Regions from separate parts of the Homo sapiens genome. Here regions 2, 3, 4, 5 and 6 are each linked to region 1. Evidence: fine-mapped expression QTL. A gene starts in region 1. Each other region holds a variant in brackets. All regions are shown on one strand. Distances are from middle to middle. Region 1 holds the start of CCR1 (C-C motif chemokine receptor 1). Region 2 overlaps CCR5AS (CCR5 antisense RNA). Region 3 has its middle 39 kb from the start of XCR1. Region 4 has its middle 8.9 kb from the start of CCR3. Region 5 overlaps CCR3 (C-C motif chemokine receptor 3). Region 6 has its middle 78 kb from the start of CCR1.

What was found.
Region 2: its variant is fine-mapped to the expression of CCR1 in whole blood (INTERVAL, PIP above 0.99).
Region 3: its variant is fine-mapped to the expression of CCR1 in blood mononuclear cells (TOPMed, PIP above 0.99).
Region 4: its variant is fine-mapped to the expression of CCR1 in whole blood (TOPMed, PIP above 0.99).
Region 5: its variant is fine-mapped to the expression of CCR1 in whole blood (INTERVAL, PIP 0.92).
Region 6: its variant is fine-mapped to the expression of CCR1 in whole blood (TOPMed, PIP above 0.99).

What each region holds. Positions count from the first base shown.
Region 1 is chr3:46,206,354-46,210,353 of GRCh38, reverse strand. CCR1 (C-C motif chemokine receptor 1) reads left to right here and starts at 2,041. Exons shown (of 2, transcript NM_001295.3): 1 at 2,041-2,072.
Region 2 is chr3:46,361,391-46,365,497 of GRCh38, reverse strand. It overlaps CCR5AS (CCR5 antisense RNA), which reads left to right. Exons shown (of 4, transcript NR_125406.2): 4 at 453-1,514. Among named protein-coding and RNA genes, the nearest start is that of CCR5, 7.5 kb to the left of the region's middle. The variant T/A (reference allele first, on the strand shown) is at 2,245.
Region 3 is chr3:46,064,029-46,068,135 of GRCh38, reverse strand. It overlaps a transcript of XCR1 not described here. Among named protein-coding and RNA genes, the nearest start is that of XCR1, 39 kb to the right of the region's middle. The variant G/A (reference allele first, on the strand shown) is at 1,778.
Region 4 is chr3:46,231,512-46,235,618 of GRCh38, reverse strand. It overlaps a transcript of CCR3 not described here. Among named protein-coding and RNA genes, the nearest start is that of CCR3, 8.9 kb to the left of the region's middle. The variant G/A (reference allele first, on the strand shown) is at 2,150.
Region 5 is chr3:46,245,556-46,249,662 of GRCh38, reverse strand. The region is part of intron 1 of CCR3 (C-C motif chemokine receptor 3); the gene reads right to left. Among named protein-coding and RNA genes, the nearest start is that of CCR3, 5.1 kb to the right of the region's middle. The variant T/A (reference allele first, on the strand shown) is at 1,948.
Region 6 is chr3:46,128,363-46,132,469 of GRCh38, reverse strand. No RefSeq gene overlaps it. Among named protein-coding and RNA genes, the nearest start is that of CCR1, 78 kb to the left of the region's middle. The variant C/A (reference allele first, on the strand shown) is at 2,262.

The DNA.
Region 1 (4,000 bases):
GCCCCCATTGTACACATCTGCTGTGGTGAGAGGGGTGTGTGCACTAAGGGGTTTGCAAGGCCATAGGAGACCTGAGTGTGGGTGTGGGAGGGGAGACAGAGCAGGCAACTGAGCAGCCTCTTGTTTAGGCCTTGAGCTAAAGAGAGAAAGAAGGCTTCCTAGCTCATAGCTGGTCCAGCCTAACTCTTCTGAAGAAAGATCACATGGGACTCTGAGCCAAAAGCATTGAGAAAATCTAGATCCATGCCCCCCAAATTTAAGCATGCATCAGAATCATGCCAGTCTTTGTCAAAACCTGGATTGCTTGGCCGCATCCCCAGGATTTCTGAGTCAGTATATCTGGCATGTAACCCCAGAACTTGCATGGCTAGCAATGTCCCAGGGAATGTGAATGCTGCTGGTCCAGGGACCTCACTTTGAGAACCACTGCTCTAAAGGACTTCCTCACCCCTTCCCACCCTCGATGCACCCTTCCTTAGCCCAGGGTATTTCCCAGGCCACTACAAAAGCTGTTCCTCATTGTGGTAACTTGGTTAATTGTTTGTGATCCTTCCTAAGCTATAAGCTCTCAAAGAATGGATCCAGCCTCTTTCTTCACCACTATATCCCAAGCACCTAACACAATGTCCGGCACATTGTGAGTACTGAATAAATATTTGTTCAATGAACAAGCAGATTTGCCTGGTACATCCCCTCTGTGGAATGAAACCTAGAGCAGAGCTGGAAGCCTGGTCAAGGATGAGGTACTGACCATGTCCCTTACTTTAGACAGGATCAAGGAAAAGGCAGGCCTCACAAGCCTCTGTTCTCTTTGGAAACTGATCCACCAGCAAAGTACTGCAAATAGCCAGGCACATGCAGACCCCCATTTATTTCTTTGGGGTGAAGCTGAGTGATGATCAGATGTCAAGCTTAGGCCATCTTGTCTGAATTCTTCATTTTACAGATAAGAAAACTGAACCATGAAGAGACAAGTGATCTTTTCAAAGCACATTCACACTGATGATTTCTGAAACAGTGCTTTGTAGCAATGCCGTGAGGAAGGTTAGGGGTGTCCCCACTTTATAGAAGACACAAGGGCAGAGGCAGAGTAGGTGTTGGCAGTTGTGAGGAGAGTCACAGTACTCATCATTTGTCAGACATTTTTCACTGTGCCAGGCACTCTGACATTTTTCATGTACAAGTTGACTTCGTGCTTCTCCTCTGAGGTAAGCATTCAATACTCCCATTTAGCAGAGTAGGAACCAAGACTTAGAAAGGTGAGTGATCTGCCCATGTCACAGGTGGAGAGCTGGGATTTGAACTTGGCCCATGTTTGACCATCACGTAAAACAGGAATGGGGCATCAGAAAGGGAAGGTCAAAATGTAACCAACAGACCTATATTCCCTTCATGCTGGAGGTTCCTGGGGCAAAGCCACTCTCTGAGGTTTGGTGGGGAGGGACTTGGGGAGCAGAGAGCAGAGGGACAATGAGCTCCCAGAAGCCGAGGGGCATAGGGTGCCAAAGAGAAGCTGCTGCCTCTGTGAGCACCCATGTCAGTTAGTTTTGAGGAACAGGACTCAGGGTTCCAGTTTAAATCCTTCCATTCACAATCTTTAAGAAGAAGAAAAAAAAGAAGTCTGCCGCTGACCACAAGAGCTCTATGCCCTGCCCCCATCCCACATACACACATCCCACACTTCAATTGCTCCAAACATTCTGGGAACATCTCACTGCCACCCACCTCACCCAACTCAGCTTCACCTGCCCCCAATTCCCTTAAGGCTGAGCTCCCAGGGCCAAGACTCAAGAGGCTCAGAGTGAGCAGAGAAAATCCTCGCAGTTAACTTGGCTTCCAGGAAGTGGCCACTGGTGGGCGTTGTGGCCATTCATGAGCACCAAACCACACAAAAAGAAGAACTTTGTCCCTTTCTTGTCATTTTGAAAGACTGTGAAACTGGAGCCAATTCTCCATCATCACACAGGAAGCTGAGTACTTCCTACTTGGTCAGGATCTTGAAACTTGAATTCATAAAAACCCAGAAAGCCCCAGAAACAAAGACTTCACGGACAAAGTCCCTTGGAACCAGAGTAAGTGTCACTTGTCTTTTCTGTCTTATCTGTTACTGTGGAGGGCAGTGTTGTTCAAAGACATGCATGCAGCTAGGGGCTCCTCAAAGGTAGGGGGAATTCTTTGAGTAGGCTGGGCAAATGTCTAAGTAGCCCATGGATGCATCTCCAAGGCAATTAATACTGTAGCAATACTGAGAATGGTGGATTTATAAAGCTGGGTGCTCAGATGAAATATAGGCTTTTTTGCTAAAAAGGAAGCTTACTTGAAGGATTGGCTTTTGGTTACTGATTAAGAAAGTCAGTCAGTACTAAGGGACAAAAGGTGTTTTCTGTGGAAACCTATTCAATAAGAAATTACTTGGCGGGGCGCAGTGGCTCACGGCTGTAATCCCAGCACTTTGGGAGACCGAGGCAGGTGGATCATGAGGTCAAGAGATGGAGACAATCCTGGCCATATGGTGAAACCCTGTCTCTACTAAAAATAAAAATTAGCCGGGCATGGTGGCGCATGCCTGTAGTCCCAGCTACTCAAGAGGCTGAGGCAGGAGAATCACTCGAATCCGGGAGGTGGAGGTTGCAGTGAGCTGAGATTGCACCACTACACTCCAGCCTGGCGACAGAGCAAGAGTCTGTCTGAAAAAAAAAAAAAAATTGCTTGCCAAATTCCCCCATGTAAAGGAAAACCAAACATGGTGTATGAAGAAATTATAGCAAGAGGGAAATATTAGCTAGAAAAATCTTGGCAGATGCAAGGATGATTTGATACTGAACCTATCTCTTAAGAAGACTAGAACCAAGGATCCTCAAAATTGGCACTGCTATCTTTGGAAGAGGTAGGCTTTCACTCACCCAAAGGCAAGGAGCTGGCCAGGTGATCTTGGGGGGCATCTGTTCTGCTCTACTAACAAAGACACAGGTCAGGATTTTGTTCTGAAGATAGAGGGGCATGGTGGCTCCGTATAGGTATCTACTTCATAGGTGGTCTTGGTGGGTCCCAGATTTCAAAGAAGAGATGGAAACTCCCAAAAGTTTGCACAACCTGGCACCAGGCTATGTGCCACTCACTGATCCTTTAGTTCCCGCACCGAGCAGTGGGACAGTGCTGGACTGTTCAGAATGTGGGGCCTGGGCAGTGATGTGCTGGTAAATGTTCAACAACTGACTCTTCTGAAGAAAAGATCCCTGCTTTATAACATTTGTTGATTTTCATGGTATAAATGCCCCCACTGTGGTCAGTTTCAAGCTACCAACATGCTGAATGTGGAGTGGGGAAGAGATGCACGCAATTGGCATTTATAAACCAGTATAAGCCAGCCAGCGCACCATAGGCCTGGGTGTCTTTCACCATCACAGACTGCTCTATCTCTGCTCAGAGACTTCACCAACTCCCAGGCTGGAGGACACTAGCAGTGGAGGGTCCAGGATCCAGGGCTATAGCTGACCACTGTGCAGTGGCCTTGAGGCAGACTTCTGCAGTAGACTACAGCAGGGCTGGCAGATTAGATGACAACATGGTCCTTTGGTTTCTCTTCTCGGGCCCCACCCCAGATCACCTCCCTTTAGGAACAGCATGCCTTGGAGTGGTTGCCTGGGGCTTAACAAGTTGGGGAAATAACAAATGGGTTGGAGGTAGGGGGTGTATGGAGGTGACTCGGTTTAAAATGCCACCTGACAATGTTGACTCAACTTGCCTTTGCCTTTGCCAAACCTTCCCAGAAACTGGACTCATGGGATCAGGCTTGCACTAGCTGCTCTTTGTGCTTTCCAAGCTATTTGCATACTTCCACTGTTAACCTGCCAGCCCACCGAAAAGTGCTGACTATCAAACCGAACTGTCTGCCCTCATCAGCAATGGCTGTGGCTGCAGAAATTAGAAACTGCCAACACAGCTTTGTTAGTGACCGTTAGCCTGACTCTCTCCAGAAAGAGGGCTGATTGGATCTCTC
Region 2 (4,107 bases), 160 kb before region 1:
GTGCATATAAAAGTTGTGTTTATCCTATACTGTAGTCTATTAAGTATGCAATAGTATTATGTCAGAAAAACCAATGTGCATACCTTAATTAAAAATATTGTATTGCTAAAAATGCTAACCATCATCTGAGCCTTCAGCAAGTCATAGTGTTTTTGCTGAAGAGGATGGCGGTCTTGTTTTGATGTTGATGGCTGCTTACTGATCAGGGTGGTGGTTGCTAAAGCTGGGGGTGGCTGTGGCAATTTCTTAAAATAAGATGACAATGCAATTTGCCACCTTGGTCGACTCTTCCCTTCACAAAAGATTTCTCCATACCATGTGATGCTATTTGATAGCATTTTACCCACTTCTTTCAAAATTGGAGTCAATCCTCTCAAACCCTGCCACTGCTTTATTAACTAAATTTATGTAATATTCTAAATCGATTGTTGTCATTTTAACCGTGTTCACAGCATCTTCACCAGGAGGAGATTCCATCTCAAGAGACCACTTTCACTGCTCATATGTAAGAAGCAACTCTTCATCTGTTCAAGTTTGATCATGAGAGTGCGGCAATTCAGTCACAACTTCAGGCTCCACTTCTAGTTCTAGTTCTCTTGCTGTTTCCACCACATCTACAGCGACTTCCTCCACTGAAGACGTGAACCCCTGAAAGTCATCTATGGGGGTTGGAATCAATGTCTTTCACACTCCTGTTAATGTTGGTATTTTGACCTCCTCCCATGAATTACAAATGTTCCTAATGGCATCTAGAATAATGACTACTTTCCAGAAGCTTTTCAATTTGCTTTGCTCAGATCCATCAATGGAATCACTATCAATGGTAGCTATATAAACTATATAAGGCTATATATATATATATAGCTATTTCTTAATAGCCTTATGAAATATATTTCTTAATAAGACTTGAAAGTCTTGGTCCATGGACTGCAGAATGGATGTTTGTGTTAGCAGGGATGAAAACAACATGAATATTCTCGTACATCTCCAACACAGCTCTTGATCGACATGGTGCAGAGCAGTAATATTTTGAAAGGAATCTTTTTTTCTGAGCAATAGTTCTCAATAGTGGGCTTGAAATATTCAGTAAACCATGCTGTAAACAGATGTGTTGTCATCCAGGCTTTATTGTTCCATTTATGGAGCACAGATAGAGTAGATTTCGCATAATTCTTAATGACACCAGGATTTACAAAATAGTAAATGAACATTTACTTCAACTTAAAGTCATCAGCTGCATTCACCTCTAAAAAGAGAGTCAGCCTGTCCTGTGGAGCTTTGCAGCTTGCCTTGACATCTCCTCTCTAGCTGTGAAAGTCCTGGATGGCATCTTCTTCCAACATAAGACTGTTTTGTCTACACTGAAAATCTGTTGTTTCGTGTAGACACTTTCATCAATTATCTTATCTAGATTTTCTGGATAACTTGCCACAGCTTCTCCCTTTGCACTTGCTGCTTCATCTTGCATTTTTATGTTATGGAGATGTTGTCTTTCATTAAACCTCACAAACCAACCTCCGCTAGCTTCAAACTTTTCTTCTGCAGCTTCCTCACCTCTCTCCGCCTTCATAGCATTGAAGAGAGTTAGAGTCTTGCTCTGGATTAGGCTTTGACTTAAGGAAATGTTGTGGCTGGTTGGATCTTTTCTCCAGACCACTCAAACTTTCTCCATATTAGCAATATGGCTGCTTTGTTTTCTCTTCATTTGCATGTTCCCTGGAGTAGAGCTTAAATATCCTTCAAGAACTTTTCCTGTGAAGTCGCAATTTGGCTAACTGGTGCAGAGGTGAGCTTTTGGCCTTGACTTTCAATATGTCCTCCTTACTAAGCTTAATCATTTCTAGATTTTGATTTAAAGTGAGAGACGTGGGACTTTTCCCTTCACTTGAACACTTAGAGGCCATTGTAGGGTTATTAATTGGCTTAATTTCAATATTATTGTGTCTTGGGCTGGGCACAGTGGCTCATGCCTGTAATCCCAGCCCTTTGGGAAGCTGAGGCAGGTGGATTGTTTGAGTCTAGGAGTTTAAGGCCAGCCTGGGCAACATGGCAAAACCCTGTCTCTCCTAAAAATACAAAAAAAAAATTAGCCGGGTGTGATGGTGCACACCTGTAGTCCCAGCTTGGGAGGCTGAAGTGGGAGAATCACCTGAGCCTGGGGAGGCAGAGGTTGCAGTGAGCTGAAATCACATCATTGCACTCCAGCCTGGGCAATCAGAGTGCGACTCTGCCTCAAAAAAAAAA[T/A]ATATATATATATATATATAATTGTTATAAATATATATATATATAATTGTTATATATACATTATTGTGTCTCAGGAACAGGCAGTCCATGGAGCAGTCAGAACACACACAACATTTATTGATTGTTTGCCATCTTACATGGGTGCACTTCATGGTGCCCCAAAACAACTACAATAGTGACATCAAAGATCACTGATCACAGATTACCATAACAGATATAGAAATAATGACAAAGTTTGAAATATTGGGAGAATTACCAAAATGTGACACAGAGATGTAAAACAAGCACATGCTGTTGGAAAAACAGCACCAATAGACTTGCTCGAGGCAGGGTTGCCACAAACCTTCAATTTGTAAACAACAACAACAACAACAAAAACAATATCTGTAAAGCACAATAAGACAAGGTATGTCTATATTTGCCCTTTTTCCTAACACTCCTCTCCCACTTCTCAATGCTAGTCCATGCCTAGAAGAGGGAGGTACAAGAATTCCCCACAAGGTAGACCACTAGGCACGTGCTGTGGAGGATGGAGCAGGAGGGGACATAGGGACAGAATGCACCCCCTCCTCTAGGCAGGGCCCTCCAGAATCCAGTCAACCCTAAGGCCCCATTGAAACAATGACTGGAGAGAAATGAAATAATTTCATATTGTGAGCTGATTACATTAGGATGTGTTATAAGGGATAGTATGAAATAAGATGTTAGTCCATGCCCTTACCCTTGCTTGCTGAGCTGCTGGGCCTGCAGAGCCTTTCAGGTGCTGGGAGGGAGAGGTTTTTCCCAGCATAACCCTCGGCTCACATCTCACTGTGGCTCCAGGCTGGGGCTGCCAAGGCCGGACCTTGCATTACAGGACTCTGTTTACACACACACACACACACACACACACACACACACACACACACACACAGAGTGCCGAAGTGGCAATGTCTGAAGAAATTTCCAGCCTCATTCCTCCCATGCCTGGAACCAATCTCTTCTCCTCAATTCATGCACTGTCTTCCAGAGGTCAGCTCACCAGCCCATACTCCTTCTGTCACAGTGTGGCCCCTCTGGGTGGCCCTTGGTGGTTTTTCCTGTGGGCTAATCTCACCTGAAGCCTTTTCAATTTGTCAGGGAAGTTTTCATAATGAGCAAAAACAAAAGAGGAAGGAAGGATGGGCTCTTGAAGGTTTACTTTCTGGAGGCTTCGGGGCCTCTTTGCAAAATGCTCCAACCTCCCCAGCTGCTGGGGATATCACAGATCAAGGGAGGTGGCATGGGGTGGGCTATGCCAAGACCCTTCCTTACCAAAAAGTCTTCAGACACTCATCCCTCAGAATGATGATGAGGGATCATCATCTTCCACCTGCTTAACTCGAACAGCCTACTCAAATGTCCCCAGAATAAACGAGACTTGAGGATTCCACTTTAGAAAGAGAGATGGTTGGCATTTTTTTTTTTTTTGAGATGGAGTCTGGCTCTGTTGCCCAGGCTGGAGTGCAGTGGCCCGATCTCGGCTCACTGCAAGCTCCGCCTCCTGGATTCATGCCATTCTCCTGCCTCAGCCTCCCGGATGGCTGGCAATTTTTAAATGGCAGTTTCTTTGGCAGCAATAAAATCCTGCTGTGGCTGTTATTCCTATGATGCAAGACTGTCATTGCATTAGTCACTCTGTCCTCCAGGCTCTCAGCACTTTTCACAGATGCCTCTGTTCCTGCTCTGCACAGCGCACTGTGACTGTGCACAGGACCTTCTCTACCCCTCCCACTCCACAGCTGGCCCTGGACTTGGAGGTGTAAAGGACACTGGCATTAACATCTGTCTTTCTGTTTCCAACCCAGTCTGGCATAGGTAGACCCTCCGGGATGCTTGTCATAT
Region 3 (4,107 bases), 140 kb after region 1:
CCTAGAACTACCTTCCTAACAGAAATTATCAGCCTCCCTCTATGTAAGCCACTTTAGTCATGTGCTCTGTTACTGGCAGCCAAGAGCATCCTAGTGAATCCACCAATGACCTTATTCCCCTGCTTAAAATCTTTCATTATTTCTGCATTCAACACTAATTTCAAATTCTATAGCTTAACACACAAAGACCTTTGCCTCCCTCCTCTGCCTTTCCCACCACCCATCTTAGCACACACTTTCCCCTCTTGAGCCAGAGTCCTTTGAATCAGACCTGAGATTTTCTGCCTCCTGAGTTTCTCGTTTGCTGGCCCCTCCACAGCATGTCCTCTTTCCTCTTCTCTCCCTGTTCTCACCCCTATGCACTTTTCAAAACTTAGCCAAGCCACTTCTTCCAGGAGGTTTTCCCTAAATCTCCATGTGACAGTTTTGAAATATGGTCCCCAAGTTAGTTAACAGTCCTCTAATAGAAAGTGATCATGTGTTCCCTGGGGCAGGAATTTGGGCCTCTGTGACCTTTCATAGCTCTGGGCACCAAAGCAGTGTATAATTGACTAATCCAGGGAGGAGTGTTATTCAAGGACACACAGGTGACCTTTGTGGTAAGAATGTGCTATGGGTGACATGAGCTGGCCAGAACTGAAGGCATGGAACCCAATTTAGCCCAACTCATCTCAATCCAACCAGCTAATGCTGCTTATCTTTCCAGTCTCAAACCTTGATGTTCCTGCCTCTTACACCATGCACCTCACCCACACTGAACCCCCTGATGGCCCAGAATATCCACTAGTGCATGAATATTCCCCTAGATCTGGCATTCAGCCCCCTCTCCCTGGATAACTCCTACTTGTCCTTCTGATCCCCCTTTGACATCACCTCCTCCAGGAAGCCTAACCTGCCTCTTCAAAGCTGCTATGCTCAGAGCCTGCCCCTCACATAGAACTTACCACACTGCCTCCTAATCATCCATTTCCATATCTGTGACCTCACAAGTATCTTCACAGGTATTCCTTTTTGAACCCCCAGCACCTAGAGGTATGCTATGCCCAGCTGTGAAAACAAATGTTCACAGCCTGATTGTGCCAATGGCCTGGCTGAATATGCTATGCTCCTGTCCTCCCTTCAGCAAGCATGTATTGAGGTCTGACTCTGTACTGCAGGTATATGGCTTCCTCATTGCACTACTGTCATCATTCAGGTTGCTGGAAAAATCAGCTATTGAGGACCCACCATCTATGTAGTAAGTATCTAACTCATATTAATTTATTTAATCCTCACACCAACTCAGTAAAGTCGGTGTTATAATTATCTGCAATTCAGATAATAAAACTGAGGTGCCAAAATTGCATAGGCACTGAATGCTAGAACCTGGGTTTAAACCCCCGTGGTCTAACTCCAGACCCATGGAATTAACCTCTACTCTGCCTGGCTTCCTTCTTCATGACTGCTTAGACACTTGTTACAAATGCAGAGGCCTGGGCCCCATCCAAAGAGCTTCTGTTTCTACAGGTCTGGGTGGAGCCTGGGAACCTATATATGCCAGGAGCCTCACCTAGTGTAGTCCACACCAACTTCCCACTAAGAAATGATGGCTGTGGCTGGGCGGGATGGCCGACGCCTATAATTGCAGCACTTTGGGAGGCCCAAGTGGGTGGATCAAGAGGTCAAGAGATTGAGACCATCCTGGCCAACATGGTGAAACCCCGTCTCTACTAAAAATATAAAAATTAGCCGGGCGTGGTGGTGCGTGCCTGTAGTCTCAGCTACTCAGAAGGCTGAA[G/A]CAGGAGAATCGCTTGAACCCGGGAGGTGGAGGTTGCAGTGAGCTGAGATTGCACTGCTGCACTCCAGCCTGGTGACAGAGTGAGACTCCGAAGAAAAGAAAGAAAAAGAAAGAAAAGAAAAGAAGCAGAGAGAGAGCGAGGGAGGGAGGGAGGGAGGAAGGAAGGAAGGAAGGCAGGCTGTGCCCAAGAGCACCAAGGAGTATGTCTGAGACTACATGGTCTGGTCCTAGTGAGCCTGTCTTGCTGCATCACAACACACTCTGTGCTTACTACCCTCGCTCCCTCCACCAGGAATGCTGTCGCTAGCCTCCCTCCTTCCACCCACCCTTATGTGCTTGAGCAGCAAAGGAGTGAGACAAGGGAGTGAATATATTTTCCTCGGATCTTCCTCTGAGAATGAGTTAGCAAATGCCCCAGGGACATCCCTACGTGGCCTCTTCCGGAGGCCCTGGAGCAGGCAAAGACGCCTCAAGCTTCTCAAATGCCTGTTTAGTCTTTGGTGCTACCAGAAATATCCAAAAGCCTTCATCTAGGACCCTACACACATTTAGAGCACACCGCCCAGGGCTCAGTCCTCTAAGTGCTAACCTTGGTCATTCTCTGAAGCTCCTCACAGCCCTGGTGATTCCAGCAGTAATTTGCTCTGCTTGAGACAGATCTGACCCAGAGAGCAAGGCAGCAGTGGAGCTTGGTGTAGCCCGGGGCCACCACCTGCATTTCCCCAACTCTAATTGGTGATGCCGTGTAAGTGGGCTGTGTGTGGTTGGGTGAGCAGAGCAGGCTTCAAAGAAAAGGGCCTCCACCCAGGAGTCGGTGAATTTTACTGTCACCCGACATCAAGGGAGTATCATATGATATTTGGCAGGTGGCCCAGAACAGCTCAGCTGCCGGAGCTTGTTGTAGAGTGGACAGGTTAGCATTTGGGGGATTCCCCAGAGTGTGGCAAATGGAAGCTCAGGCACCTCTCTTAAAGCCACATCAAAGTTAAGTTGCTAGAAAGCTAGCAAGACTCCTGCAGGTAACAGTCCCTAAGGGGAGCCTGAAAGTGCGGGATGGGTGAAGGTGGGAAGGAAAAGCAGGTTGGGGATTTTCCCCTAACCAATATTACTTGTTTTGACTATTGCTACATAACAAAGTGCCCCAAAATGTAGAGGCTTAAAAGAACCATTTTATTAGATCTTATAATTTTGTGACCCAGAAAGTTGAGTAGAGCTTGGCTGGGTAACTCTATTTTTTTTTCCTTTTTTTTTATTTCTTTATTTTTTTGAGACAGGGTTTTTCTCTTGTTGCCCAGGCTGGAGTGCAATGGCGGGATCTTGGCTCACCACAACCTGCACCTTGCTGGTTCAAGCAATTCTCCTGCCTCAGCCTCCCGAGTAGCTGGGATTACAGGCATGCGCCACCACACCCGGCTAATCTTGTATTTTTAGTAGAGACGGGGTTTCTCCATGTTGGTCAGGCTGTTCTTGAACTCCCAACCTCAGGTGATCCACCCACCTCAGCCTCCCACAGTGCTGGGATTACAGGCGTGAGCCACTGCACCCGCCCTGGGTAACTCTTCCAAGTGGCATCAGTGGGGGTCCCTTGGTGCTGTTGAGCTGGTGGATACCTGGGGCTGAGCAGAGAAGGCTGGAGAGCTAGGCGCAGCTGGAACCATCTACCATTCCTGCATGTGGCCTCACCAGCATGGTGGCTTCATGTGTCGCACTTCGAAAGTGGTGGTCAGAGCACCAAGTGAGAATGTTCCAAGAGACCCAGGTGGAAGCTGCAAGGCTTCTTATGAGCTACAAGTCCAAGAATGTCACTCCAGCCACATTCTATCAGTCAAGCAAGTCAATGAGGGATTTCAAGGGAGTGGAATTGGACTTCATCTCTCAGTGGGAGGAGCAGTAAAGAATTTGCAGCCATATTTAACCTCCCATGATACAAGAGAGCTAGGAAAAACTTGCAAGGCTCATTGTGGGATTTTTTTACTCCATACATGTTTGTTGAGTTCCTGGTATGTGCCAGCTACTGCCCTAGGCACTGGAGAGACAGACCAATGAACAATACAGAGACATGATCCCTGCCCTTATGGAGACTGTAGTCTAAAAGAGTCTAACAAATAATTACGCAGTGCCTGGCACATGATATGTGTTCAGTCAATGTTGAATACTGGTATTATTATTGTTAAATAATCATTAGGGGCCAGACACATTGGCTTACACATGTAATCCCAGCACTTTGGGAGGCCAAGGTGGGAGGATCACTTGAGGCCAGGAGTTTGAGACCAGGATGGGCAACACAGCAAGACTTTGTCTCTACTAAAAATAAAAAAATTATCCTGGCA
Region 4 (4,107 bases), 25 kb before region 1:
CTTATGTCAAGGGCACTCTATACACTGACCTGCAGTCAAGATTCAGTTTCTCCACAAAGATATCTCTTTCTGCTTAGAAAGAATGGACTCCAATCCCAGTGAGTTATTAGCAATGTGAAAGTTTCAATTTTCTTGTCTATAAATGAAGATCATTATAGTACCTGCAGGGATGTGAGAATTGGGTGAGCTAGCCTATGAGAAGTGCTTGTAGGAAGTGCGCCTCCAATGCTAACCATGATAGCATGTGTTGTTATGTCTTAATGTAGCAGGCCTTGGTACTCACCTCCCTTTCCACACTCCTGTGGCATTTATTGCCTACTTAGTCTTCTGGTGCTCAGTATCCTCTGGAGAGAAAGAAGCCCTTCCCTGTCCCCTGCCCCCTTTATTGTCTGGGATCTGAGCAAGTTAAGATATGGGGGTAGGTGGGGGAGTGAGGGAAAAAAGAAGCCTGTTAATTAAACCACAGAACTGTACAGATGTATCTACTGAGTGACAGGCAGCTCTCTTTCAAGAGGAAGAGGAGCAGAGCTGGGCTAAGGCTTCCCAGCTATTCTTTCCAAATCTGACCAATTTAAAAGCCACTCCACCTCCAGTAGAGGGGTGGAGAGAAGCCAGATGTAGACCCTTTGAGCTCCCTTCAGGAGAAAGGGAGTGGGATGTGGGAATGGGGGCTATGCATGGGCGTGAGCCCTCCACCTGGTGAGTGGACCTGGTCAACTCCATCCTCACCACTCACTGTAGCCTTAGAATTCCCCAGAAGTGATTTAAACAACCAAAGAGCTTCATTTCTTCATAAAACAAGCTAAATGCTGGTGATGGTGGTGGAAGGAAAGCCATAATAAAGAAATCTTAAAAAGCAGTGGTTCTGGGGCAGAAAACATAAATTTGGGATAAATTATCGACAGGAATATGGAATTCAGCAGTGACTCAGATCTTCATGGGAGTGACTCTACTGTGTGTTCCACATAAAAACAAGGGAAATCAGGGGGTATTTTGTGGGGTGCTCCAGTTAGGGCAATGAGTGCTCATCAATTGCAAGACTAAGCTTTATAGAATGTTAAAACGAGGCTTAATTTATGTGAGGATAAGCACAACCACATAAATTCTTGGTAGAAATATGGCTCCAGATAACATCTGGAGCCCAAGTGGACTCTGAAAGGGTATGTGGTCACTCTGGGAGATCTTGGATCTGATGTTTCACAGATGTCAAGGATCTCCCCTGGGCTTTCTTGGGTATCAAGAGCCCTCAGGCCTTTCAGGTTGAAGCTTCTCATGAACTACCCATTGATTAAACCAATGAATCCATCCCAATACATTTAATGTCTCTTAGGATAAAAGCATGCACTGTTAGAAAACACTCCTGGAGATTCACAGTGCATTAAAGGCCCCTGAGAAGTCCTGTAGTGATGAATCTGTTTGAAACCTTCCTAATCCAGCATTTCTCAAACCTATCTTTAACTTAGAAAAAAAATACTTTTCAAATGACAAGTGTTAACATCTCTCAAGGTCAGGATGCCTCAGGAGCACTCTGAGCAGTGCCGGCCTGATGCATGCACAGGCACTACAAGGGCATACTGCCCCCTGTCCATTGTCTTACCTTGACGGGGTATCCATTGCAGCCCAGGAGGTGGCAGGATGCTCTTGCAACCCTGCTACCTTACCCCTGTGTTGCAGATGGGGAAGCTGAGACTCAATGAGGGACTTGGCAAAAGCCACAGAGAGTGAAGGGCAGAGCTGGCTCTACCCCAGAGCTTGGGCTAGCCACATGGTGCTCTGTTTTCCGGCATGGTACTGCCGTCTGAAGAAGAGTTGCCTGTTGCCCTTCAGCCAAAGGTGAGGATGGCATCAAACCTGAAGGAAACCAGAACACAAAGTGGTTTCCCCAAGGTCCAGAATGGCTCGTTCTGTCCTGGCTTTTCCTACCACGGGAAAGAAATTTTTGATGCTTCTTTTGGGGTTCTTAGCTCACAGGAAAAACAGAGGTGTGTGGGAAAACCCAACCAAACACAAATGTCTTCCAATCTCCCAGATTCTCACTGCCACATTACACTGAAGCAGACACATTTCTGGGGGGCGGGAAAAAAGAGCCAAAACAACAACAACACACGCAGAAGATAGCTTAGGAGTATGGGAACATGGGAGGGGAAAA[G/A]CAAAGAACCTCAGAAATAGGAAAGGGTCAGCAATATTTTGCAGGAGAGCATAGGTCAAGCCACAACCTTGAGCATGTGAACGGAAACGATTGCCAGAGCAGCAGGGAGAAGTGCAAAGCTTCCTTTAATGCACCCACCTTCCTTCCCGGGCACCAGGGCCAGAAATGTGGGGCTCCAGCCAGACTTGTGTTTACTGTCACTTTTCTAGTGAAGTTAGTGGAAGGACTTTTGTAGCCAGCAGGGCCCCTCTCTAGCACGTTGGCAATCCTGTGTATTTCTGTGTTCCCTCCACTGACAGCACGTCACCCTCCTGTGAAAGCTTTACAAAAAGGACTATGGGCCGGGTGCAGTGGCTCACGCCAGTAATCCCAGCACTTTGGGAGGCTGAGACACGTGGATCACGAGGTCAGGAGTTCGAGACCAGCCTGGCCAACATGGTGAAACCCCGTCTCTACGAAAAATACAAAAATTAGCCAGGCGTGGTGGCGTGTGCCTATAATCCCAGCTACTCGGGAGACTGAGGCAGGAGAATTGCTTGAAATCAGGAAGTAGAGGTTGCAGTGAGCCGAGATTGTGCCACTGCACTCCAGCCTGGGCAACAGAGCAAGACTTCATCTAGAAAAACACAAAAAAGGATTATTCCCCTGATAGATAGCCTATTCTACAAAAGAGACAGGAGTGAGAACGTGGAAGCTGTGCTATTGGGGGAGGTGGTGGGCCACCTGTGATTTCAAGATAACAGGTGAACAAGAGTCTAGCATTGATCTGGGCCTTGATATTTACCATCAGTGCAACATCACATCCAGAATGGCACCAAGGATGGGGCAAACCACCGGTGCAGCCATGAACATGCCCCTCCCACTCCAGAAAGCCTAAGACCCCTCTGCAGGCTCTGAAATCAATGTTGTGCTTCCAATGACTGAGCACACAGGGATACTGAGGCAGGCCCAATCCCTAGAGATGCACTGACATTAGCTTAAGGACCCCCACGTGGCTATGCCAAACCTTCCTCAGGCTGCAGAACAGTCTAGGATGCGTCTACTACCGCTTGGTTCCCCTGCTACCTCACTGGGGTTCTGCCGGCTTTCCCAGCCCTTCCTGCTCCAGCCCACTTTCCCTCCCAGGTGCTTTTCCAACAAAATCTTTCCCTGTGTAAAACCTGCTTGGTGGCTGCTTTTAGAGATCTGGACAGACGTAACCTTCATGTTCAAATTAGCTTCAACATATTCCTTCAGGGCATTCCCGTGAGGGATTGTGTTGTTGCTTGTTCCTCTAACCATTCTGTGTGTTTCATTTTGCTCATTTTCATTTTTTTATAAGAACATCAAAAATCTAGTATCAAACTCAGTAAATAAATATGACGATGAAGAAAAAAATTGAACAATGATTTAGAAATTATGCAGAAAATACATTTTTCTCCCCAGGATATGGAAAATACTTCCTAATTAAATGCAAAAACAATGCACTTCCAATAAACAGGAACAAATTCATATAATGTTACCCAAGTAAAATATGTGAAGTTCTTATTTCCATGGTACCTCACACTGTCACATGGGCCCCTGGAAATGCAAGAGAGACATTGGGGCAGGGAAAGAGATGGGATAGATCAATAGATCTTGTTTCTCCTGAAACAAGATAAGAGGGGTGGATGAATAATGGATCTTTTTTAAAAACCACTTTATTGAAGTATAATATACAAAAAGCTGTGCATATTTAATCTATACAACTTGATGAGTTTGGAGAGAAATATACCCCTGTGAAACCCTCATCATAATCTATACCATAAACACAACTATCACTTCAAAAGTTTCCTCCTGTCCTATTTATCAAGATTATTACTTTAACGTAAGATCTACCCTCTTGGCACATTTTTAAGTATACGATGCAGTGTTGTTAGCTAGAGGCACCATGCTGTTCAGTACATCTCTAGGACTTATTCATCTTCTGTAACTGAAAC
Region 5 (4,107 bases), 39 kb before region 1:
ACTGTTCAACTCACCTGGCAGCCACTCCCAGAGCCCCTGGAACTCTGGCCCAAGGCTCTCTGACTGACTCCTTCTTGGCTTAGCGGCTGAAGACTGACACAGCCTGATCGCCTCGGAAGCCCCATAGACCATCACAGATGCCGAGCTTTAGGTAACTCTCACAGTGGAGGGTAAGTCCATCCCCTTCTTAATCAATACAGAGGCTACCCACTCCACATTACCTTCTTTTCAAGAGCCTGTTTCCCTTGCCTCCATAACTGTTGTGGGTATTGATGCCCAGGCTTCTAAACCTCTTAAAACTCCCCAACTCTGGTGCCAACTTAGACAATACTCTTTTATGCACTCTTTTTTAGTTATCCCCACCTGCCCAGTTCCCTTATTAGGCCGAGATATTTTAACCAAATTATCTGCTTCCCTGACTATTCCTGGACTATAGCCGCATCTCATTGCTGCCCTTCTTCCCAATCCAAAGCCTCCTTTGCGTCCTCTTCTTGTATTCCCCCACCTTAACCCACAAGTATAAGATACCTCTACTCCCTCCTTGGCGACCAATCATGCTCCCCTTACCATCTCGTTAAAACCTAATCACCCTTACCCTGCTCAATGCCAAGATCCCATCCCACAGCACGCTTTAAAAGGATTAAAGCCTGTTATCACTCGCCTGCTAAGGCATGGCCTTTTAAAGCCTATAAACTCTCCTTACCATTCCCCCATTTTACCTGTCCTAAAACCAGACAAGCCTTACAAGTTAGTTCAGAATCTGCACCTTATCAACCAAATTGTTTTGCCTATCCACCCCGTGGGGCCAAACCCATATAACCTCCTATCCTCAATACCTCCCTCTACTACCCATTATTCTGTTCTGGATCTCAAACATGCTTTCTTTACTATTCCTTTGCACCCTTCATCCCAGCCTCTCTTTGCTTTCACTTAGACTGACCCTGACACCCATTAGGCTCAGCAAATTACCTGGGCTGTACTGCCACAAGGTTTCACAGACAGCCCCCATTACTTCAGTCAAGCCCAAATTTCATCGTCATCTGTTACCTATCTCGGCATAATTCTCATAAAAACACACGTGCTCTCCCTGCTGATCCTGTCCGATTAATCTCCCAAACCTCAATCCCTTACAAAACAACAACTCCTTTCCTTCCTAGGCATGGTTAGTGCAGTCAGAATTCTTACACAAGAGCCAGGACTGCACCCTGTAGCCTTTCTGTCCAAACAACTTGATCTTACTGTTTTAGCCTAGCCCTCATGTCTGCATGCAGCAGCTGCCACTGCTTTAATACTTTTAGAGGCCCTAAAAATCACAAACTATGCTCAACTCACTCTCTACATTTCTCATAACTTCCAAAATCTATTTTCTTCCTCATACCTGATGCATATACTTTCTGCTCCTTGGCTCCTTCAGCTGTACTCACTCTTTGTTAAGTCTCCCACAATTACCATCATTCCTGGCCCGGACTTCAGTCCAGCCTCCCACATTATTCCAGAAACCACACCTGACCCTCATGACTGTATCTCTCTGATCCACCTGACATTCACCCCATTTCCCCATATCTCCTTCTTTCCTGTTCCTCACCCTGATCATGCTTGATTTATTGATGGCAGTTCCACCAGGCCTAATCACCACACACCAGCAAAGGCAGGCTATGCTATAGTACAAGCCACTAGCCTGCCTCTTAGAACCTCTCATTTCCTTTCCATTGTAGAAATCTATCCTCAAGGAAATCACTTCTCAGTGTTCCATCTGCTATTCTATGTGCTATTCTACTACTCCTCAAGGATTATTCAGGCCCCCTCCCTTCCCTACACATCAAGCTCGAGGATTTGCCCCTGCCCAGGACTGGCAAATTAGCTTTACTCAACATGCCCTGAGTCACAAAAACTAAAATACCTCTTAGTCTAAGTAGACACTTTCACTAGATAGGTAGAGGCCTTTCC[T/A]ACAGGGTCTGAGAAGGGCACCGCAGTCATTTCTTCCCTTCTGTCAGACATAATTCCTCAGTTTAGCCTTCCCACCTCTATACAGTCTGATAACAGACCAGCCTTTATTAGTCAAATCAGCCAAGCAGTTTTTCAGGCTCTTAGTATTCAGTGAAACCTTTATATCCCTTATAGTCCTCTGTCTTCAAGAAAAGTAGAACGGACTAAAGGTCTTTTAAAAACACACCTCACCAAGCTCAGCCACCAACTTAAAAAGAACTGGACAATACTTTCACCACTTTCCCTTCTCAGAAGTCAGACCTGTCCTCGGAATGCTATAAGGTACAGCCCATTTAAGTTCCTGTATAGATGCTCCTTTTCATTAGGCCCCCAGTCTCATTCCAGACACCGGACCACCTTAGACTGTGCCCCAAAAAAACTTGTCATCCCTACTATTTTCTATCTAGTCATACTCCTGTTCTCTGTTCTCAACTACTCATACATGCCCTGCTCTTGTTTACACTGCCAGTTTACACTGTTTTTTCAAGCCATCACAGCTGATATCTCCTCGTGCTATCCCCAAACCGCCGCTCTTAACTCTTGAAGTAAATAAATAATCTTTGCTGGCAGGACTATGCTGAATCTCCTTAGGCACTCTCTAATCAGATGTCCTAGGTCCTCCCGATTCTTAGACCTTTTATACCTGTTTTTCTCCTTCTCTTATTCCATTTAGTTTTTCAATTCATACAAAACCATATCCAGGCCATCACCAATCATTCTATACGACAAATGTTTCTTCTAACATCCCCACAATATCACCCCTTACCACAAGACCTCCCTTCAGCTTAATCTCTCCCACTCTAGGTTCCCACGCCGCCCCTAATCCCGCTTGAAGCAGCCCTGGGAAACATCGCCCATTCTCTCTCCATACCACCCTCCAAAAATTTTCGCCACCCCAACACTTCAACACTATTTTGTTTTATTTTTCTTATTAATATAAGAAGGCAGGAATGTCAGGCCTCTGAGCCCAAGCCAAGCTATCCCATCCCCTGTGACTTGCACATATACGCCCAGATGGCCTGAAGTAACTGAAGAATCACAAAAGAAGTGAATATGCCCTGCCCCACCTTAACTGATGACATTCCACCACAAAAGCAGTGAAAATGGCCGGTCCTTGCCTTAAGTGATGACATTACCTTGTGAAAGTCCTTTTCCTAGCTCATCCTGGCTCAAAAATCACCCCCACTGAGCACCTTGCGACCCCCACTCCTGCCCGCCAGAGAACAAACCCCCTTTGACTGTAATTTTCCTCTACCTACCCAAATCCTATAAAACGGCCCCACCCTTATCTCCCTTCGCTGACTCTCTTTTCGGACTCAGCCCGCCTGCACCCAGGTGAAATAAACAGCCATGTTGCTCACACAAAGCCTGTTTGGTGGTCTCTTCACACGGACACGCATAAAAGCAAGTAGCCACCATAGTGGACAGTACAGGCCTAGTGTCCAGCATGATGCCTGACAAATGAAAGATGCTTAATAAACTCTTCTTAAGTGTATGAAAGGATGGAGTAGAATAATTTTTACTCTGCTTTGCACTGTCCAGACTACACATCTGAAATATTATGTTCTGTTCCAGGCACCAAATTTTAAGAGGGTTAGTATCAACCTAGACTATAGAAGGAAGTAGGATGATAACAGTCCCAAAACATCAGCCATAGTTGGCAGAACTTGGAATGTTTTGTATGAAAAATAATAGCCTTTGCATGAAATCAAACTAAATGCCCATCAATGACAGATTGGATAAAGAAAATGTGGTACATATACACATGGAATACTATGCAGCCATAAAAAAACAGATAGTGTCTTTTGCAGGAACATGGATGGAGCTAGAAGCTATTATCCTTAGCAAACTAATGCAGGGAAAAAACCAAATACGACATGTTCTGACTTATAAGTGGGAGCTAAATGATGAGAACTCATGAACACAAAGAAGAGAACAACAGACACAGGGGTCTACTTGAGAGTGGGAGGAGGGAGAGGAGCAGAAAAACAAGTATTGGCTACTAGGCTTAATACCTGGGTGATGAAATAATCTGTACAACAAACCCCCATGGCACGAGTTTACCTACGTAACAAAGCTTCACATGTACCCCCAAACCTAAAATAAAAGTTAAAAAAAAGG
Region 6 (4,107 bases), 78 kb after region 1:
AGCTAGGAGAGAATGGAAGGGGCTATTCTGGTCACCACTACTCTGTTCTAGAGACATCACATTGTCAGTGTTGAAGCCTTGACTGGTGCAGCCCCAGGGACAATTGCTTGCTGATGAGGCAAGGCCCTCGCTGCTCTGGCTCGCTTCAGACTACTGTCGAGGTGCCACCCACCAGCCTCCACCTGGAGGTCCTTCAGCTCACACATGCTCCAAGCCTGGAGCTCCATCGTTCCCAGGGCGTGGCCCCATGCCATAGTCGCTGGGCCAGGAGGCTGCTGGTCTTGGCTGTGCTATTCCATAATCTCCCTGCATACACACAGCAAAGCCCAGGCTCTTGCATTTAGCTCAGACTGCCTTTGCCCTGGTGAATTTACCTTTGCCCTTGGCCTACTAGTCCTTTCCTCTCACCGTAAGCCACCCTGCCAGATTTGCTCGACTCAATATCTGCAGTCCCTCCCCTAACAAGGCTTCTGGCTCCTGATGTGAAAGGGTTTCCCTTCTACTAAAGTTCTGTGTGCTGAGGGCTCCCAGGACAAGCAGCTTTCATCAGGCCACACACTGCCCTTGTGTCCTGCACCCTCCCTGAGAGCAATGAGATCCTCCTTGCTGCCATACGCTATACGCTTGCAGAACAAAAAGGGGGAAACACAAGGAAAATTGTTCCAGGGGATCGTCCTTCTGGAAGCCTCCAATTAATTAGGCCAAAAATTAATATATAAAGTAAACACCATTAAAATGATAGTGCAAATAAAACCACATGCTAGTCAGTAATTATCAATATTGGCAGAATAGATTTAAGTTGATCTTCCACAGAGAATGATTTTTAAAGAAAACAAAAAACCCAGTATTGGTTCAGTTGCTCTATTCACAAAGTTGGCTATATTCTCACCTTGAGTTTATGTTCCAGCCCAAGCAGAATCCAACCCTAAGCCTTTTCTTTGTAAGTTTCAAATTTGATATAACTTCAAATTTTATGCAGATGTTTCAAGAATAGTTCAAAGAACTCTGTCCAAAGATCATCTTATCCAGATGCACCAATGTTAATATTTTGCCCCCATTTGTGTTATTCTCCTCCCCTCACTTCTCTTCATATCTAATTTATATATTATTTTCCTGAACTGCTTGAGAGTAAGTTACAGACACCATGCCCTTAAAAACTTCCCAAAAATGCCCCATGTGTATTTTCTAAAAGTAAGGACATTCTCTTACATAGCCACAGAACAAGGATCAAAATCAGGAAATTTAACATTCATCTCATGCTGTTGTCTGGTCCATCTTCCATGTCTACATTTCGCCAATTGCCCTTAAATAGTCCCTGGTGAGCTGTCTTCCCATAACCCAGATCCAATCTGGGATCAAGCTTTGCATCAGTCACCTTTCATCTAGAAGGGCCTCAGGCTTTCTGAGTTTGGCTCACTCTTAGGCAGGCACCACGGGGCTCGGAGTCCTTCGCTTTTCTGCAGCCGCACCTGCTGCCTGCCCCAGTTAGAGCCTATCCACCTTCTTGGTCCCCTAAACCTCCCTGGATCATGCAGTTCTCCTTCATGCTGAACATGGAGTGAGTGTTCTCTGTTGTTTTCTTGTGACTTCTTTCCAGTCAGGAAAATGTGATTCTGGTAACTCCATGCTTGTTCCCTTTTCACACTAACCACAGTTCCCTTTTTACAGTAATCACATTTTGGTGTAAAAACAATGTCATGATAAAGGAAACTTCCTGAAAAGGAATGAGAACATAATCCTCCTCTAAGAACCTGTTCATTTTTACTTGTGCCGGCCTAGTAATACATTTTATACTGCAGTCATTGTGCTCATTTTTTTCATCTGCCCTTTCACGTTTTCTAAAATGCAAATTGTTCCCTGTCACTCCCCTCCTATGACACTCAGGCCAAACTGCAGACACGACCTAGTGAGGGCCCTGCCTACCCTCATCCCCTGACATATGGTCCTGGTGCTCCCCACGCCAAGCCACGCAGAGGCTCCTGAATACACCAGACTCTTTCTCAGTTGTATCCTTCCACCCCACTCTTGCGTCTGCTCCATCAGGCCCAACTAGTGAAGTTCGCACAAAGTGCCTAAGCATCACCTCCCTCCTGTGCCTGACCTCACCACTCCAGCCAGGGCCACTCCCTCACTGCTTGGTCCAACAGCGGTTATCAGAGTATCATTCTGTTTTGCAGATGGGCTTATGTGCCCGCCTCTCCCAGTGACTGTGTGTTTCCTGTGGGCAGCACCTATATCTTTTATTTCAATGTCCCTAGCAC[C/A]AGGCACAGTGCACAGAGGTACCAAAAAACTCTGCAAGTGAACATTGTTGCTGTAAGGCCAGCATCCTTCTTTCACCCTGTGTTCCCTTCTAAGCTGTGCATGCAAACACCCATCTCTTTTGAGCATCATGAGAGCTGCCTGGGCCAGCCTTCTCACTCATCATCCCCACCACTCCTCACCCCCTTGGTCATGCCCCGTGTTCTCCAGCTCCTCTCTGGATTCTGAGTCTGGTTTGAGTCCCACCTCTCCCATGGACTACTGGTGTAATCTTGGGAAAGATTTTACCTTTATGCCCTTGCATTTCTTGACCTCAAATCCTTTGCCTCCCCCACCTTTCAGCTACCCACACCACAAATCTTGTCACTTCCAGGATCTGCCCTATCAAGAAATCTTTAGCATCTCCTTCTCTAACCACAACTGCCTATAGTGCCTATTCTTGCACATCCTCCTTACCATCACCCCCACCTGTGTTTCCACCCCATCAAGCACTCCCTAGAAACTTCGACCCACCATTTCCCCTGGATATTATCATCCCCTTGCTGTCTTCACTTAATTCTTGATTAAGTCACATAGTCCTTACCAGTACACTCCATTGACCACACGTGAGGTGGGTATGGCCTCATTACCCCTGGACACTCCCTGAACATACTCCAGGTATGCTCTTCTGAGATGCCTGCCTGGAAGAACCCAACCTTGACCCTGTCTCGCAATCCCATTTCTCTAGTTTTGTGCCCAACCTGCTAGAGAAATTCATCCAGGTGTAGGGAAAACACAAATCCATGATGTCTAACGTCAGCTGGCCCTCGGTATCCGAGAGAGCTAGATCTATCATTAGAAGCCATGGTGTCAAGTACTGGCTCTGCCATTTTGGGCCATGAACAGAACTTCTACCTTGTACAAACCCGGCAGCACCCTCCCTTCCCCTCCAAAGCCAGCTCCCTTCCCCTCCAAAGCCAGCAGGTTTAAAAAAGTTCCAAAGTCTCATAATATATAATGCCCCAAATTTCCAGGTTTTTTAATGTGGTAATATATATATATATATATATATATATAATCAAATGTACCATTTTAAACCATTTTAAGGGTACAGTTCAGAGGCACTAAGTACTCTCATATCACACAACCATCACTACCTTCCATCTCCAGAACTTTTTCATCTTCCCAAACTGAAACTCTGTACCCATTAAGCACTAACTCCTCCCTCCCTCCAGCCCCTGGCAACCCCTATTCTGCTTTCTGCTTCTGTAAATTTGACTATTCTTGTTATCTTATGTAAGTGAAAACATACAGTATTTCTCTTTTTGTGACTGGCTTATTTCACTTAGTGTAATGTCTTCAAGGTTCATCCATGTTGAAGTAAGTGTCAGAATTTCCTTAAGGCTGAATAATATTCCATTGTACCTATATACCACATTTCGTTTATCCATTCAGCTGTCTATAGATATTTGGGTTGTTTTCACCTTTTGGCTATTGCAAATAATGCACTATAAACTTGGGAGTACAAATATCTGTTTGAGTCCTTCCTTTCAAATCTTTTGGGTGTATATCCGGAATTGGAATTGCTGGATCACATGAAAATTCTATTTTTAATTTTTCGAGGAACTGTCATACTGCTTTCCATAGCCTCTGCACCATTTTACAATCCCACCAACAGTGCGCAAGGGTTCCAGATTCTTCACATACTCTCTAACACTTATTTTCTGGTGTGTGTATGTGCGTGTGTGTGTGTGTGTGTGTGTGTGTATTTCTTTTTTGCTAAAAGCCATACTATTGGGTGTGAAGTGGTATTTTCTTGTGGTTTTGATTTTCATTTCCCTAATGATTAGGAATGTTGAACATCTCTTC